Regions from separate parts of the Homo sapiens genome. Here regions 2 and 3 are each linked to region 1. The links come from fine-mapping of genetic effects on gene expression. A gene starts in region 1. Each other region holds a variant in brackets. All regions are shown on one strand. Distances are between the middles of the regions. Region 1 holds the start of LIG1 (DNA ligase 1). Region 2 overlaps LIG1 (DNA ligase 1). Region 3 overlaps LIG1 (DNA ligase 1).

Region 1 (5,216 bases):
AGGTGCCTGTAGTCCTAGCTACTCGGGAGGCTGAGGCGGGAGAATCACTTGAACCTAGGAGGTGGAGGCTGCAGATGGCACCACTGCACTCAAGCCTGGGCGACAGAGCGAGACTCCATCTCGAAAAAAAAAAAAAAGTCTGTAAGTCGGGCCCACACCATCTCTTGCTCCGTGAGTATCTTTGTCTCTCTAGCTCCTCTTCTTCTCTCAGTACATGTCCCTCCTTGACTCCCGCCTCTCTGCAAGGTGTATTTGGCTGCCTCAGTTGGCCTCTCCCCCTCTGCATCTCTGGGTGGGGTGTTCTCTGCCCGTCTCCCACCCACACCCACCCCCGGTGCTCCCCTTCCCCCCAGCAGGACAGCGGCTCAGGTTCACGCACCCCACGGCGGGCCGGCTGGGCGCACGCACGTCCTTGCACACAAGCCGCACGTAGCTGTACTTGAGCACGTCGATGAGCGTGTAGAGCGGGGGCGCACTGGCCCAGCGGCAGCGCGCCAGGTGCATGGAGCTCTTGACGAAGAAGAGCGCCAGCCGCTGCTGGCACCACGCGTCGAAGAAGCGGCTGAACTCGGCCCACGAGAAGAAGGCCCGCTCCCGCAGCTCCTGCTCCTCCTGCCCCGCAGCCGTGCCGGGTGGGGGCTCCGGCCGCTCCATCCTGGGGGCCTGCGTGGAGGAGGGGAGAACAGGTGGATATCAGACCCATTCCCACCCGGGGTATCTCATCTACTCCATTCTTGGCCTGCCCCGTCGGTTGCTGGTGCCTCTATCGAGGTGGGTAGCCCGGGGTCGGACGTGCCTGTTTTTCTCCAAATATATAAATATCAACCTCCATCCTATCTTTGGCCTCCTCCCACCGCCTTATCCCTGGTTCACTTGGAGCCTGTCATCTTGATTCCTAATTCCAACTCGTCTCCTCCTCCGCAGATGTGACCCTTAGGTACAGTTGGAATCTCTCCTCCCAAAATACGACCCTTAAGCTCAGATGTCCCTTAAGGACATCTCCTCAAATGTGTTCTCAAATTCCAGCTAAAACCTCCTCCCCTTCCAGCTGTGTCTCTCACCCAAGAGTAACTTCTAACTCTCGTATTCATCTGGAACTCCTCCTTCCATGTGCCAACAGTTGGCTGTAACCCCTCCAAAGACGCTCCATCTCCAGATGTGCTCCCACATCCAGGCCACGGACCCCTCACCCGGTCACATGCTTCATGCACCTGTGGCTCCGCACTCCCCAGATGTGCCTCTGGCGTGCAGCTGTTGCCCCTTCCCCCGATTATGACCCTATGGCTCGCCACATGCAGCTGTAGCTGGGGCTTCCCTGAGACACTCTCATCTCCAGATGTACTCCCCACATGCAGTTATCCACGCTTCGCCTACAGGTGTGTGCCCCACTTGTGGCTAGTTCTCCTCGGAAGTGTCACCAGTATTCACCTGTGGTCCCCTCCTCCTCAGATGCGGCCCCCAGTCCAGCTGTGGGCCCCTCCTCCCAGTTACATCCACCATCCCCCGCAATATGCATCTTCGTTCTAGACATGGCCCCTCGTCCTCGGATGGGCTCCTTCACCCCAGATGCTCCCCCCACGTCCAGCTGCGCGTCTCCCCTCGAGCAGCCCCATCCAGCCCGCTCCCGACCCTCCTACTCCCCCCCTCCCCGCCCGCTGCGGCACCTTCCAGCCCCGCCGTCCCACCTAGCTGTGCCTCTCCCCTCCCCAAGATGTGCACCCTTCCCGCCCCTCCCCACTCACCTACCCGCCCCGGAGCGGCGTCCACCTCCCACAATGCCCCGCGCCCAGGCCTGGCCCGGCCCTTGCTCCCGGGATGCCCCGCGCGGTCTCCCGCCTCTCTTCCCGCCGTGCCTCGCGGGGGCGCTTCCACCGATTCCTCCTCTTTCCCTGCCAGTCACTCCTCAGACCCTCAGCCACACCCGCTCATCCAGGGCGAGGGAAAGCGCGGGCATTTTCCCAGTGTGCTCTGCGGGAGGGCTCGCCCCACTTCACCCCTTTTCCCGCCCTCCTCCCATTCGGGAGACTACGACTCCCAGTGTCCTCCGCGCGACGGCGGCGGTGCGGACGGTGCCCAGGTCCCGCCCCTAGGCTCTGCCCCGCCCCCGCCCGCAGACGTCTGCGCGCGAATGCCGTGGCGCGAACTTGGGACTGCAGAGGCGCGCCTGGCGGATCTGAGTGTGTTGCCCGGGCAGCGGCGCGCGGGACCAACGCAAGGCAAGTGGGGCCGTCCGCAAGCAGATGGGAGGCGGAGGGCGGCGGGTGCGCCGAATGCTTGGGGCCTATGCTTCGCCATGTCGGGGTGTCTGCAGAGGAGTGGGCGTGGGGACGCTGAGGCTGCCGAGAGCGCGGTGGAGACGGAAGAGCGCGGGCTGCGGGCCGCCGGAGAGTGCAGAGAGGTGTCTCCCAGAGGGAGGGGGGCCAGGTAGAGGGTAGACGAGAGACAGAGACAGTTGGACAGGTCCTCTGAGAAGAGGCCTTGAGGTGCGAGTTCACCTGGAAAGGGGAGAGGCCAAATGGAACTGAGGGGCGGGGCCGGGGGGGGGAAAACTGTGTGGGCGGGGCCAGCTGGAAATCGGAAGGCCCCCCGAGGGGGCGGGGCTATCTGGGAGGGGGAGGGGCTGAAGGGAGCTAAGGGGCGGGGCCGGGGAAAAGATTGCGTGTGGGCGGGGCCACCTGGAAGGGGGAGGTGCCAAGGGTGGGGCTGGCTGGGAACCGGAAGTGCTGAGGGGGCGGGGGCCACCTGGAAGTGCTGAGGGGGCGGGGCTAGAAGAAGGTAAATCGCGGGCAGCAGCATCACCTGGAAGGAGTGGGCCCTACTGGAGGGAGATGGGTGGTGTCAGGGAGAGGTCAGTGGTAAGGTCCAGGTCTAGGTAAAGGGCTCGTAAAAGATGGAGAATCATCTGAATGGGGAGACGTCTGGCCTAATGTATGCTTGATAAAGGGATGGAGCTTACCTCTTGTTTTTACTTTTTATTTTGAAATAATTATAGATTCAAGGAAGTTGTGAAAAGAGTATATCCATCTTCCCCTAATGGTGACATCTTATGTAGTCCCAATATCGAAACCAGGAAATTGACATCAATACAGTTCTGTTAACTAGATTACAGACCTTGTTCAGTTTTCACCAGTTTGTGTGGTGTGAGTGTGATTGTGCATCTGTGTGCCCGTGCAGCTTGATTCCTTGTATAGATTTGTGTAACCCCCATCGTAATTGTGATATAGAACAGTTCCCTCTCCACATAAGAACTCCTCCCCAGGCCCCTGGCAACCGCTAATGTGTTCACCATCTCTAGTTTTGTCATTCGGAGATTGTTATGTAAATGGAATCATATATTATTAGGATGTTACCTTTTTTCTACTCTGCACAATGCCCTGGAGGTCCACCCAAGTTGTTGCTTGTATCAGTGCTTCGTTTCTTTTTATTACTGAGTACTGTTTCATCCTTACTTGATATTTTTCCTGTCATTATCTCTTCATTTTGGTAACCGCTTTATTGAGATATAATTCACAATTATACAGTTTGCCCATTTAAAGTGTACAATTTTGCCCATTTAAAATGTACAAGTCAGCGGTTTTCAGTGTATTTAAAGTGTATTTCAGTGTATTTAAAGTGCCCATTTAAAGTGTACAAGTCAGTGGTTTTCAGTGTATGCGCTGAGTTGTGCAGTTATTACCATAATCGATTTTAGGATATTTTTATCATCCCCCCAAAAAACTCCTATACCTTTTATCCATCATTCATTTAATTTTAACCCTGAACAATATTCTACCATATGGTATTCCAGTAATGAGGGAACCAGTTCCCTAAGGGTAGACATTCCACCAGTTTCCAGTCTTCTCTCATTACAGTTAGTGCTGCAGCAGGTAACTTTGTGCCTCACTTGGTCCACCTGTGAGGGTCTCTGTGGGCCAAATACACAGAAGTGGGGTTGCCGTTCCGATAGAGACGCCAGGTGGTCCTCCAGAGGCATCAACCAGTTTGTTCCCCCCAACTCAGCAGTACACAGAGTTGAGAAGCCAGCCTTGAGTACCGTGGTAAGGAGAAAGGAACGTGGGCTTTGGAGCCAGCCACACCGGGTTTTGAAGCCTTGCCTGAACCCCAGCTATGTTCCTCTGTCCTCATTACCTTCATCTATAAAGTGGGGATGATCTCACCTGTCTTGGAGGGCTGACTTGAGGATTGAGGGTATTTGAGAATGTGATCAGCCTGTCAGGCATAGAGTAGGCTTCCCAGTAAACGCTTATGTATTTCTCCTTCCCTTGCAACTCAGTCTGGTGGTTAAGAGGTGAGCTGTGGAGCAGGCCGACCTGGGGTGGAACGTACTATAGATGCAGGTTAAGTTCCTTTGAAAACCCCTCTGTGCCTTAGTTTCTGTAACAGAGTTGTTGTGGAGAGTCAGTATAATTGAGAATGTCAAGTACCTAGGCAGTTGAGCACTCAGGAGGGATCGTAATAGTTTTCTCCTTTGCCCTCAGGATTTTGGTGGCTAAGTCCCTAACCTGCTTTCTGTGTGAACTGTTTGGTTGAAGCATTGCTTACTTCCTGCTCCCCAACTGGCCCTGAGAAACTCTGTTTGGAAATTGCTGAGTTTCTTTTTTGTTTGTTTTTTTTTTTTTTTTTTTTTTTTTAAGACGGGGTCTCGCTCTGTCGCCCAGGCTGGAGTCCAGTGGTGCAGTCTCAGCTCACTGCAACCTCTGCCTCCTGGGATCAAGTGATTCTCCTGCCTCAGCCTCCTGAGTAGTTGGGATTACAGGCTGGCACCACCATGCCTGGCTAATTTTTTGCATTTTTAGTAGAGATGGGGTTTCACCATGCGGGCCAGGCTGGTCTTGAACTCCTGACCTCGTGATCCGCCTGTCTCAGCCTTCCAAAGTGCTGGGAGTACAGGCGTGAGCCACAGTGCCGGCCTACTGAGTTTTTTGATTCCAAAATTGAGTTTGAGTTGTGGTGCCAACATGTGGCGGCCAAGGCTGTAGAGAGTAGTGGAGACTTAGAGGCGTGTGGTGCGGGACAGAGAGTACTGATTCCAGAAAACGAAAGGGGACCCCATGGGTTGAAGAAGATTTCTGTGCAAAGGAAGGGAAAGTCAAAGAAAACCATTTCTGTTGCCCAGGCTGGTCTGAGCTGGTCTCAACTCAAGCAATCCACGCAGAGGTCCTGCTAGTCCTTTTTTAAAAAATATATTCATAGTGGAAGGAAATATAATGTAAATA
Region 2 (5,216 bases), 32 kb after region 1:
CTCTACCTCAGCCTCAACCACCTTGGGCCACCCCAGCAGGGCCTGGAGCTTGGCGTGGGTGATGGTGTCCTTCTCAAGGCAGTGGCCCAGGCCACAGGTAAGGGGGACTGTGGTTGGAGGGACCAGAAGGACAGGAGCTCAGCCAGAGAAAATGCAGAGGTCAGGTGGATCGGAGAGATGGTGGAGAGAGGCTGTGAAACAGGGTTGAGGAGAAGGCTGAGAGGGAGGAGAGCCTGATGGGGACAGATTTGCAGGGGTGTGGGAGAGAACACAGGGGCAGCAGTTCAGGTGAGGGAGGACCAGGCATGTGCTGGGACAGGGGGTGTGGGGTGCAGGGAAGGGGAGGGCTGGGGAAAGATGCTGGAGGCAGAGACAGCAGGATTTGGGGGCTGAGATGGAAGGTTGGGGCTTAGAGAGGTCTGAAAGGACTTTGACTGGAGGGATTGGAAGGAGTGGGAGGAAAGAACATGGTGTGTGGGGGGCCAGCAGCCTGAAGGGGCCCAGCCGCCAGTGCTGGGTGGAAAGGCTGGTGATGCGGATGGCCCGCCTGCCAAGGGCCTGGAGTGCTCGGTGCTTATCATGAGGACACTGGGGAGCCATGGAAGGATTGTGAGCAGGCAAGGGGCAGCATCCAGGGGGAAGAGGAGCTGGACCCCAGCTGTAGAGAAGAGAGAAGAGGGCAGGAGAGATCTGGCAGACAGTGGATGTCAGGGTGAGGAGGCAGGAGGAATGCCTCCAGGATCTCCCTGGGTGACTGGATGGATGACAAAGCCGTCGGCAGCTTGGGACCCTGGTGAGGGGCAGGCACCTGCAGGGGGCATTAATCACCCCAGCGTGGGGCAGGCATGAGCAACCTCTATCTGTGGGCCCCCAGGGCCATCCAGGAAGTTTGGAAACGGGTCTGAGGCTCACCAGGTCTGGCTCAGAGCCCAGGGTTCGGGCTGGTCAGTGTAGGAGGGATGACCACCCACTGGTGGGTTCTCATCCGCCTGGGGAGAGGATGTGCTGGGAGCACTGGAGCTGGCTTAGGGCCATGGGCACCAACATTTAGGGAAGGCAGGGGTTTCAGGCTTTCATGAGAGGACAGAGGGACTGAGAAAGGTTGACTTGGATCAGGAAAGAGTTACGGGCTTATGGGAGCCAGAGGAGATGAGACTCAAGATTTTCTCACTCATTCACTCAAGATGTGTTTCGGGAGCACTGACGTCATACCAGACCCAGCACACACGGGGTCGGTTAAGAATACTCTGAGCTGCAGGTAACAGAAAACCCAACTACATTGGCTTGGACAAAGAAGGATCTGTTTTTCTCACAAAAGAAGTTGCAGATGCTGGCTTTCCTGCCCAACAATCCATGGCAGCTGGGGCCTCTTCCACTGTCTCATGCCTCCACCCTTGATGGGTCGTGTTCACACTCACACTGCTCTCCGTGCCGCCTTGTGGCCCCCGTGGCTGTCCAAGTCCCGGGTTTGTTGTGAGTTGTTGGCCACTTTGGAGAATCCCGTCCCCTTTGATGTGTGATTCGATAACATCCCATTGGTGAGGCTCACACTGTCGGCTCTCCCATTTGTGGCAGTTTCGCTTCAGGCGCGAGGCCCACCTTCATGTGCTCTGTGCCGCGGCTGAGCATCTGTGGACTGAAACGCGCACTTGTTCGTTCATTACGGATTGCTTTCCCTTTCATTCTTTTCTGTGTTAGGGTTAGGGCGTTATCTCGATAGGTGTAGGCAGGTTATGTTATCTCCACATTTTATTTCAGACCAGAAAAGAGGTGACACACAGTATCTGGTGACAAGGGTGTGTTGGTTCTGATAGGTTGAGAGCTGCTTGTCACAGCTGTCACCGTGACTTGAGGCTCCATCTCCCCAGCTCTTACACCCAGGCGCCCATGGGACCCAGCTCTGGACAGTAAGTGGGGCCAGAGCACATCCCACGTGTGTAAGCTGGTGGCTCCAAAACAAGCCGAAGGGTCTTTGGTCACTGCCAGAGATGTTCATGACCCGCCAGAGGAAAGGGTCCCTTGGCCTTCTCTGCTCTGTCCACACTCACTTCCCTAGTGACCTTGTCCCGCCTGTGGCTTTAAATCCCATCCGCGCCCTGATGACACCGGCCCAGATGTCTCCCCTGAGTGTGGTCATGCTCGTTCATCCACCGCTTTCCTGGCTCCACGTGCATGTTTGCTGACTTCCTACAGCCAGCGTGGCTGGGGGCACGTTCCCCAAGCCATTTCTACCAAGTGGGTGAGCGTTAGACACAGGGAGGTGCAGGGACTCGCCACAAGCACACACAGCTGGAGAAAATTCATCCAGGCCGCGAGAGAAGGGAGACACGCAGCCACAACTGTCACCCTCGACACCCCCACCCGCGCTCTCCCCTGAAGGTCGGCAGCTGGAGTCCGTCCGGGCTGAGGCAGCCGAGAAAGG[C/T]GACGTGGGGCTGGTGGCCGAGAACAGCCGCAGCACCCAGAGGCTCATGCTGCCACCACCTCCGCTCACTGCCTCCGGGGTCTTCAGCAAGTTCCGCGACATCGCCAGGCTCACTGGCAGTGCTGTGAGTGGGGCGGGCCGCTCATCCCGGACCCCAGACATCTTGGGGACCTGAGGCCACGCGTGTGTCAGGAAGGCTTCTGGGTAGACCATCAGCTGGGTCGCATCAGTCCTTCTCATGGGGTGCACAGCTTCCTCTCCTCCTTCCTGCACCCAATCCTAGGGGAGTCTCCTCTTCAGAGTCTAGCAGACCTAATGCCATGGCTGCCACATGACAGGACTCAGTAAATACTTCCTGGATAAAGGGAGAGGGAGGCAAGGAGGAGAGCTAGCTCGTTCTTACTGCCCTAAGAGTGGGCGGCCATGGGAGCTGGGACATGGGGATGGGGTGAGGGAAGGAGGGCAGGTATTCCAAAATGCAGGGCAGCAGCACGGCTGGTGGGGTGGAGGTGTGGTCCCTGCCTTCACCAGGCACTGACGGCTCTTCCCCTGACTCTCCAGTCCACAGCCAAGAAGATAGACATCATCAAAGGCCTCTTTGTGGCCTGCCGCCACTCAGAAGCCCGGTTCATCGCTAGGTAAGCGTGTGGGCCTGTGAGGCTACAGAGGGGGACTGCAGGCTCGGAGGTGAAAGGAGGGAGGGACTGGCAGCTGGAATCATCACAAATGCCCTGACCATCCTTGGATGAGAAAAGCATGAGCAGGAGGCCCAGCCCCTAAAGAGTGGGAAGGGACACCATTTCCTTTCACAGGCCAGCTTCTGTCCCTTGGTAGTGCTGTCTAGAGAAGGCCCCTGGGCCCCTGTGGGTGAAGCATGCTGTGATTGATTGGTGAGGTCTGCCTCGGCTTGGGCGCGGGCCCTGCAGCAGGAAGCCAGGGTTTGTTTGCCATGACAGTGAGAGCAAATCCATTGAGGGCTCACATCATGGAGCATTTCTTGGGAGCCCTGCCCTGTGCCCCGTGCCTTACCTCATCAGTTCCTACCAGCAACTCTGTGAGACTGGTCTTGTTACCCTCACCTCCAGTTTATAGAAGGGGAAATGGAGACATGGGGAGGCAAACTAAGCCACTTGTCTCCTGCCACTGGCTCAAAGCAAGGACCATGCTGGGGTCCTGACCATTACAGTCACCAGGGCGGGCGCCAGGCTCAGTTCTCTCCCTGACTCATCCTCCTCAAGCCTCGCCAACCCCTCAGGGCAGCTGAGATGGGAGGTGCTGGTGCACCTACTTGTGCCCCTCCCCAGTCTATGCTAGTGGGCAGGATCATTACTGCCTGGCTCAGTTTCCTCATCTGTCACATGGGGCTGTGTGATATCTGGGGTCCCTTCCAGGCTCTGAAGATTCTTCTGGTTTTTGAGGAGAGGGTCTACATACATCAAGGTCGAGGAGATCAGAGAAGGGAGGAGGCAAGATTGGGGAGGTGCAGACAAGCCCCCTTCCCTGGCCTGCTCTCTCCCCAGGTCCCTGAGCGGACGGCTGCGCCTTGGGCTGGCAGAGCAGTCGGTGCTGGCTGCCCTCTCCCAGGCAGTGAGCCTCACGCCCCCGGGCCAAGGTGAGCTCCTGTGGCCCGTCTCTGCATCCCTCGCTGGAGTTACCTCAGGCTTCCCCCCTCCTCTTCAGAGGCCCATGCCCGCCCCTTCCCCAGCGGGCCCCTGCCATACCAGGCTCCTCTCTCCTGGGTGGGGGGGAGGGGGCGTCTTGGGCCGCGGCATCTGCATTCCTTGCCATACAGCAAACCACCCACTGCACCCTGGTGTAGCCAAGGATGTGGGTGCCTTCCAAAGCCTCTGGTGGGTCTTTTCTTAGAATTCCCACCAGCCATGGTGGATGCTGGGAAGGGCAAGACAGCAGAGGCCAGAAAGACGTGGCTGGAGGAGCAAGGCATGATCCTGAAGCAGACGTTCTGGTGAGAGCTGGGCAGTGGGTGGAGTTGCCAGGGGCTGTGGGCAGAGTGCCAGGGTGGGGGTGGAGCCAGAGGAGCAGTGGGTGGGGCCAGTGAAGTGACGGACAGGCATCACGAGTGCCGGTCACGGGGTGACTGAGAGCAGAGGTGGTGATCTAGACAAGGCTGGTGCTTGACACAAGGATGGTGACAAAGATCAGGAAGGTGGCAAACAGTGAAGGGTCAGTGACCCCAGGAGAGGTATAGAAAGACGCTGGCAGCGGCCAGGCACAGTGGCTCACGCCTGTAATCCCAGCACTTGGGAGCCTGAAGCAGGCAGATCACTTGAGGTCAGGAGTTTGAGACCAGCCTGGCCAACATGGTGAAACCCTGTCTCTACTAAAAATACAAAAATTAGCCTGTAATCCCAGCTACTTGGGAAACTGAGGCACAAGAATCATTTGAACCCAGGAGTTGGAGGCTGCAGTGAGCTGAGATCACGCCACTGCGTTCCAGCCTGGGCAACAGAGTGAGACTGTCTTAAAAAAAAGAAAGACGCTGACAGCAAGGGAGGGCAGCCGGCAACATGAGGTTTCTGAGTGCCAGACAGGGCTGTGCATGCAGAAAGGCCTTAAGGGACCCAGAGAGGAGCAGGTGACTGACACATGGTGAAGGGTCTTGACAGTCATGGAGAGGACATCCGTGGAGCGGCCACGAGGGCTCCAGAGAGAGCCATGTGGAGGGACCTAGGCCAGCAGCTGACCCAGGGCTGGTGACTCCAAGATCATGACTGCCCCAGAGAGGATGTCAGAGGCAGGAGGGCCGATGGCAGTTCCACAGATGGCCTCAGAG
Region 3 (5,216 bases), 50 kb after region 1:
GGGAGTGCCCCGGATGATCAGGAAGAGTCTTTCCCAAAGTGAGGGACAGAGCACTAGGGAGGAAAACCCCCGGTGCAGAGACCCTGAGGGAGGAGCAGCCTCTGCGTGTGCAGGGAGCAAGGGCAGGCGAGGCGGGAGGTGAGCTCAGAGTGGGGAGCAGGCCCCAGATGAGGCAGCACCTGGGGCCACTGTGAGATAAAACTGGATCTTCCTCTTGAAGGTTTCAGGAAGTCAGTGGGGGTTCCGTGCCGGGAGTCACAGGTTGTCATTGTGCGAAGCTCCTGGGGTTTCCCCTCGAGTGGAGGACGGGTGTGTTGAGGGCCAGCGAGCAGGAGCCTGTCATCAGTAAGAGTTGATGGATGTTTGAGTGGAGAGGGGCAGTGAGGGGTGGACAAGGGGACTGGAGCGGGAGGCATTGTGGCACTGAGCCGGCCAGGCCTGCTGACTAGCTCTTCCTGTGTACTTATGTCTGTCTGTGGCTGGTTTCCCTCCAGCACAGACCTTTCCTGTCTCAGGAAATAGCACTGTTGTGCCCCCAGGGCTGAGCTTCTGCCTGGCACATGGTTAGCACTTAGTGAACGTTTCTGAACGAATGGGAAAATGCTCTCCCTTTGGAGGAGTGGCCAGAGTGAGTTGGCCACGTCTCTGTCCTGAGGGAAAGACGGCGGCAAGGCTGACTCCTGAGGTCCCATCGATCCCGCCTGCGTTTCCCATTTGTTCTTATTTATTTATTTATTTATTTTAAGACGGAGTTTCACTCTCATTGCCCAGGCTGGAGTGCAATGGCACGATCTTGGCTCACTGCAACCTCCGCCTCCCGGGTTCAAGCGATTCCCCTGCCTCAGCCTCCCAAGTAGCTGGGATTACAGGCACACGCCACCACGCCCGGCTAATTTTGTATTTTTAATAGAGACGGGGTTTCTCCATGTTGGTCAGACTGGTCTCGAACTCCCGACCTCAGGTGATCCACCCGCCTCGGCCTCCCAAAATGCTGGGATTACAGGCATGAGCCACCGTGCCCGGCCCCATTTGTTCTTATTTAAACCTAGAAACCCTTCCCATGTCCAGTCTCTTCCCAGGGGCCATCCTTGGGGTTCCTTCTGGAAGTTCCCTTCAGACTTACTTCTAGTCCCTCCTCAGTCCACTGAGGAGCCCCTCCCCAGCAGTGAGGGCCCCGCCTTGGGCGCTCCCCCTTCTCATCTCTTGCCTCCCCTTCTCCCAGCTGAAGAAGGACTACCTTGATGGCGTGGGTGACACCCTGGACCTGGTGGTGATCGGCGCCTACCTGGGCCGGGGGAAGCGGGCCGGCCGGTACGGGGGCTTCCTGCTGGCCTCCTACGACGAGGACAGTGAGGAGCTGCAGGCCATATGCAAGGTCCTGGGGAACTGGGGCTGATGGCAGAAGCAGGAGGGAAGGAGATTAGACTCCCGGGGGTATTTCCTATTGCACAACCCAGACCGAGGGGTGCTCACATCCCCCTGTGAAGGATCCGTTCTCCCCAGTTTTTATTTACTTTTTCTGGTTCTATGAGCAACTCTTGCTTCATATAGAAAAACAGGCTGGGATAGAAAGATGTCAGGAATGTGTGTCAGTGAGAGATTGAGATTAGCTACAAATAGTGGTGGCTCACATAAGAAAAGAATTTTTTTGTTATGAAATGAGAAGTGTGGAGGGGGCAGTCTGATGCCATTAGGGATTCAGGTTCCTCCTCTCCCCACATTTTTTTTTGTCCCCACATTTTTTTTTTCTGCCATGTGCCTCTGGCCTCATCATCACAATGTGGCTGCAGGAGTTCCAGCCCTCATGGCCATGCCTGCTCCACGCACCAGGGAAGAGCAAAGGGGGTTGGACCCTGAGTCAGCCTCAGCCAGTGAACACCTTCTGCTCAAGTTCTGTTGCTCATCACTTTGCTCCATGGCTCACCCCTAGCTGCAAGGAATTCTGGGAAATGTAAAGTGATTTACTTTTTTTCAAGTTAAAGTTTTTCTTAAAGCTGTGCACATTTTGGACTAGATTTTCTTACGTATTTCCTATATTCCCCTCTCCAACAAATTTGGGTCTTTTGCCACAGAAACAGAACAAAATATCACCTAGAATCGTACCACCCAGAGACACGCAGTAGTGACATTTGAGGGAATGTTTTATTTACATTTTTGCAAAGTTGTGATCCTTCTCTATGAGTAATTTTCTTTTCTGCCTTTTTACCCTGGAAGTACTTTGTTTTCAGTGTTGTATATGCCCTTAAGCAATATGGCAACAGGACCTGAATGCCCGCACAAGAGTTTTCAAGTGCTGTGCCCCATAGCACATAGTGCTGTGTCCTGAACCAGCTCCCCGTGGCTGTGTGGGGAAGTTGTTGCCGGCTTTGTTCTGATGGGTAATGTGATTACTTAGTGTCCGTTAACCTAAACGATCAGTGACAGAAGTGACTTTTATAAATCACAAATGTTTTGGCCACCAATCTACATTGTCACCATTTTGCATTATTTAGAATAGATTTTTAAATGAGCTATTGTCAGGACAAAAGGCAAAAAGAATCCTTAAGACTCTCAATGCAAAAGGGGCTTTCCAGGTGA[C/T]GTTTATATTGGTGATTATTGCCCACTTGCTGCGTATCTGCCAGCATCCAGCATTACTGCTAATTTTTAGCCTTTCCTATTTTGGTAGGTGAAAGAAGCTCTTGGCAGTGTTAACATTGGAGATGGGCTGGGCATGGCCACTCACGCCTGTAATCCCAGCACTTTGGGAGGCTGAGGTGGGAGGATCACTTGAGCCCAGGAGTTCGGGACCAGCCTGGGCAACATAGTGAGACCCCACCTCTACAAAAACTTTTTTAAAAAATTAGCCAGGCGTGGTGGTGCATGCCTGTGGTCCCAGCTACTTGGGAGGCTGAGGCAGGAGGATTGCTTGAGCCCAGGAGGTGGAGGTTGCAGTGAGCCAAGATTGCACCACTGCACTCCAGCCTGGATAACAGAGCTACACCCTGTCTCAAAAAAAAAAAAAAAAAAAAAAAAAAAGACTGGAAGTGAGGACAGCCAGTTACTGGGCAGTGAGGATGTGGGTGAGCATAAGGGAGTGACTTCCTGGGGCCAGGGAGACAGTGGAAGCAGCAAGAGTTTCTCCATAAAGCAGAAGACAGGGAGTGGTTCACGGCAGGCCTGCTGGGAGAACATTCCCACCCGGGAGTCTCTGGATGGATGCTCCGCACCCCCAGCTCCCTACTTCCCTGGTTTTCTGTGGATACTGCGTAGACCAGAGTGGGGTGGGGGCCATGAGTGTACACAGCTTTAGATGGCAGGAGCAAGTGCTGGGCCTGTGGCTGGCTGAGCCTCTGACCTCCCGCTTCCTCCCTGCAGCTTGGAACTGGCTTCAGTGATGAGGAGCTGGAGGAGCATCACCAGAGCCTCAAGGTGAGCCATGGCGGCTGCGCCTCAGCCTCCACCCCTCTCCCCCCTGCCCCTGACAGCACAGTCCTTCCATGCAGGGCTCTTGGCTTCCACCATCTTGGGGCTCCAGGTGTGGGCAGGAGGGCAGCAGGCAGTGGAGCTGGCTTTGGAGTCCAGCATCTCCAGGTTCATGTCTCAGCACTGCCGGCTACTAGCTGGTGACCCTGCTCAAGCAGCCTCACCTCCCCAAGCCCTGTGCCTCATTCACACCAGGGGTTAGCCAAAGGACACAGCAGGTGCCATAGCTGCTCCTTGTGAAGTGCCTGTGAGCCCTGATCAATGTGAATGAATGTTGTCATGGTCACAGGCATTTCAGGCATGAGTGTCTGTCCTACATATTGGATCTGTATTAGTTTATTTTCATACTCATACTGCTATGAAGAAATAACCCAAGACTTGCCGGGCGTGGTGGCGCATGCCTGTGGTCCCAGCTACTTGGGAGGCTGAGGCAGAAGAATTGCTTGAACCCAGGATGCAGAGGTTGCAGTGAGCTGAAATCATGCCATTGCACTCCAGCCTGGGAAACAGAGTGAGACTCTGTCTCAAAAAAAAAAAAAAAAAAAAAAGGATCATTTATAAAGAGAGGTTTCCTGGACTCACAGTTCCACACGGCTGGGGAGGCCTCACAGTCATGGCAGAAGGCGAAAGAGGAGCAAAGGCACATCTTACATGGCGCCAGGCAAGAGAGCGTGTGCAGGGGAACTGCCCTTTATAAAGCCGTCAGATCTCGTGAGACTTCCTCACTATCACGAGAACAGCACGGGAAAAACCTGCCCCCATCGTTCAGTTACCTCCCACCAGGTCCCTCCACGACACATGGGGATTTTGGGAGCTATGATTCAAGACAAGATGTGGGTGGGGACACACGGACCCTGACACCATCTCTGTCCCACTCTTTGGTTCTCTCTCTCCATTGCCCTCTCTCTCTACATCTCTGTCCCTGTCCCACTGTGTCTCTGTCTCCTTCCTCCAGGTCTCTGGCCCTTTCTCTGCCTCTTTTTGTCTTTAATGTCCTGCCTCAGCCCCCAGGGCCTTTCATTTCTTTCCATCTCCCATTCCTCCCAACTCCCACCTTTCTCAACTTTTTACTTCAAGGGGGTCTTGTTTCTTTTCCCTTCTTTCACTTTCTGTTTCTCTTTCTATTTCTGTTTACTTCAAGGGGGTGTCTTGTTTCTTTTCCCTTATTTCACTTCCTATTTCTGTTTACTTCAAGGGGGTGCCTGTTTTTTTCCCTTCCTCCCTCTCCCCAGCCCTCCAACACTTGGCCTTGACTTTGAGATTCCAGACCCTCTGTTCCTCTCTTCCTCTGCTCACTGCAGGCGCTGGTGCTGCCCAGCCCACGCCCTTACGTGCGGATAGATGGCGCTGTGATTCCCGACCACTGGCTGGACCCCAGCGCTGTGTGGGAGGTGAAGTGCGCTGACCTCTCCCTCTCTCCCATCTACCCTGCTGCGCGGGGCCTGGTGAGTGGCAGAGGACCTGGCCGTGGCCCTGTGTGGGATTCTGGGCGGGCACACAGAGAGCAGAGTAGGGAGGGGACCTTGGCTCACATCTGCTCTTCCAGGTAAGGATCAGGAAGATGAGCTTGCATTTTATTTGAGTGTCAGATAAAAAGATCAAAACATTTTTTCTTTAAAAATGGGCCGGGCATGGGGGCTCGTGCCTGTAATCCCAGCACTTTGGGAGACCGAGGCAGGCAGATCACTTGAGGTCAGGAGTTCAAGGCCAGCCTGGCCAACATGGTGAAACCCCATCTCTACCAAAAATACAAA

Evidence for each region.
Region 2: its variant is fine-mapped to the expression of LIG1 in whole blood (TOPMed, PIP above 0.99).
Region 3: its variant is fine-mapped to the expression of LIG1 in whole blood (TOPMed, PIP above 0.99).

Annotation. Positions count from the first base shown.
Region 1 is chr19:48,167,241-48,172,456 of GRCh38, reverse strand. LIG1 (DNA ligase 1) reads left to right here and starts at 2,113. Exons shown (of 28, transcript NM_000234.3): 1 at 2,113-2,216. It overlaps ZSWIM9 (zinc finger SWIM-type containing 9), which reads right to left and starts at 1,777. Exons shown (of 4, transcript NM_199341.4): 1 at 1,743-1,777; 2 at 380-663. The coding sequence starts at 654. RefSeq lists silencers at 1,585-1,724, 2,525-2,574, 2,605-2,674 and an enhancer at 1,972-2,631.
Region 2 is chr19:48,134,852-48,140,067 of GRCh38, reverse strand. It overlaps LIG1 (DNA ligase 1), which reads left to right. Exons shown (of 28, transcript NM_000234.3): 12 at 1-97; 13 at 2,380-2,546; 14 at 2,984-3,060; 15 at 3,943-4,034; 16 at 4,289-4,388. Among named protein-coding and RNA genes, the nearest start is that of LIG1-AS1, 8.4 kb to the left of the region's middle. The variant C/T (reference allele first, on the strand shown) is at 2,423.
Region 3 is chr19:48,117,329-48,122,544 of GRCh38, reverse strand. It overlaps LIG1 (DNA ligase 1), which reads left to right. Exons shown (of 28, transcript NM_000234.3): 24 at 1,223-1,375; 25 at 3,355-3,408; 26 at 4,764-4,907. Among named protein-coding and RNA genes, the nearest start is that of PLA2G4C, 9.1 kb to the right of the region's middle. RefSeq lists a silencer at 389-578. The variant C/T (reference allele first, on the strand shown) is at 2,578.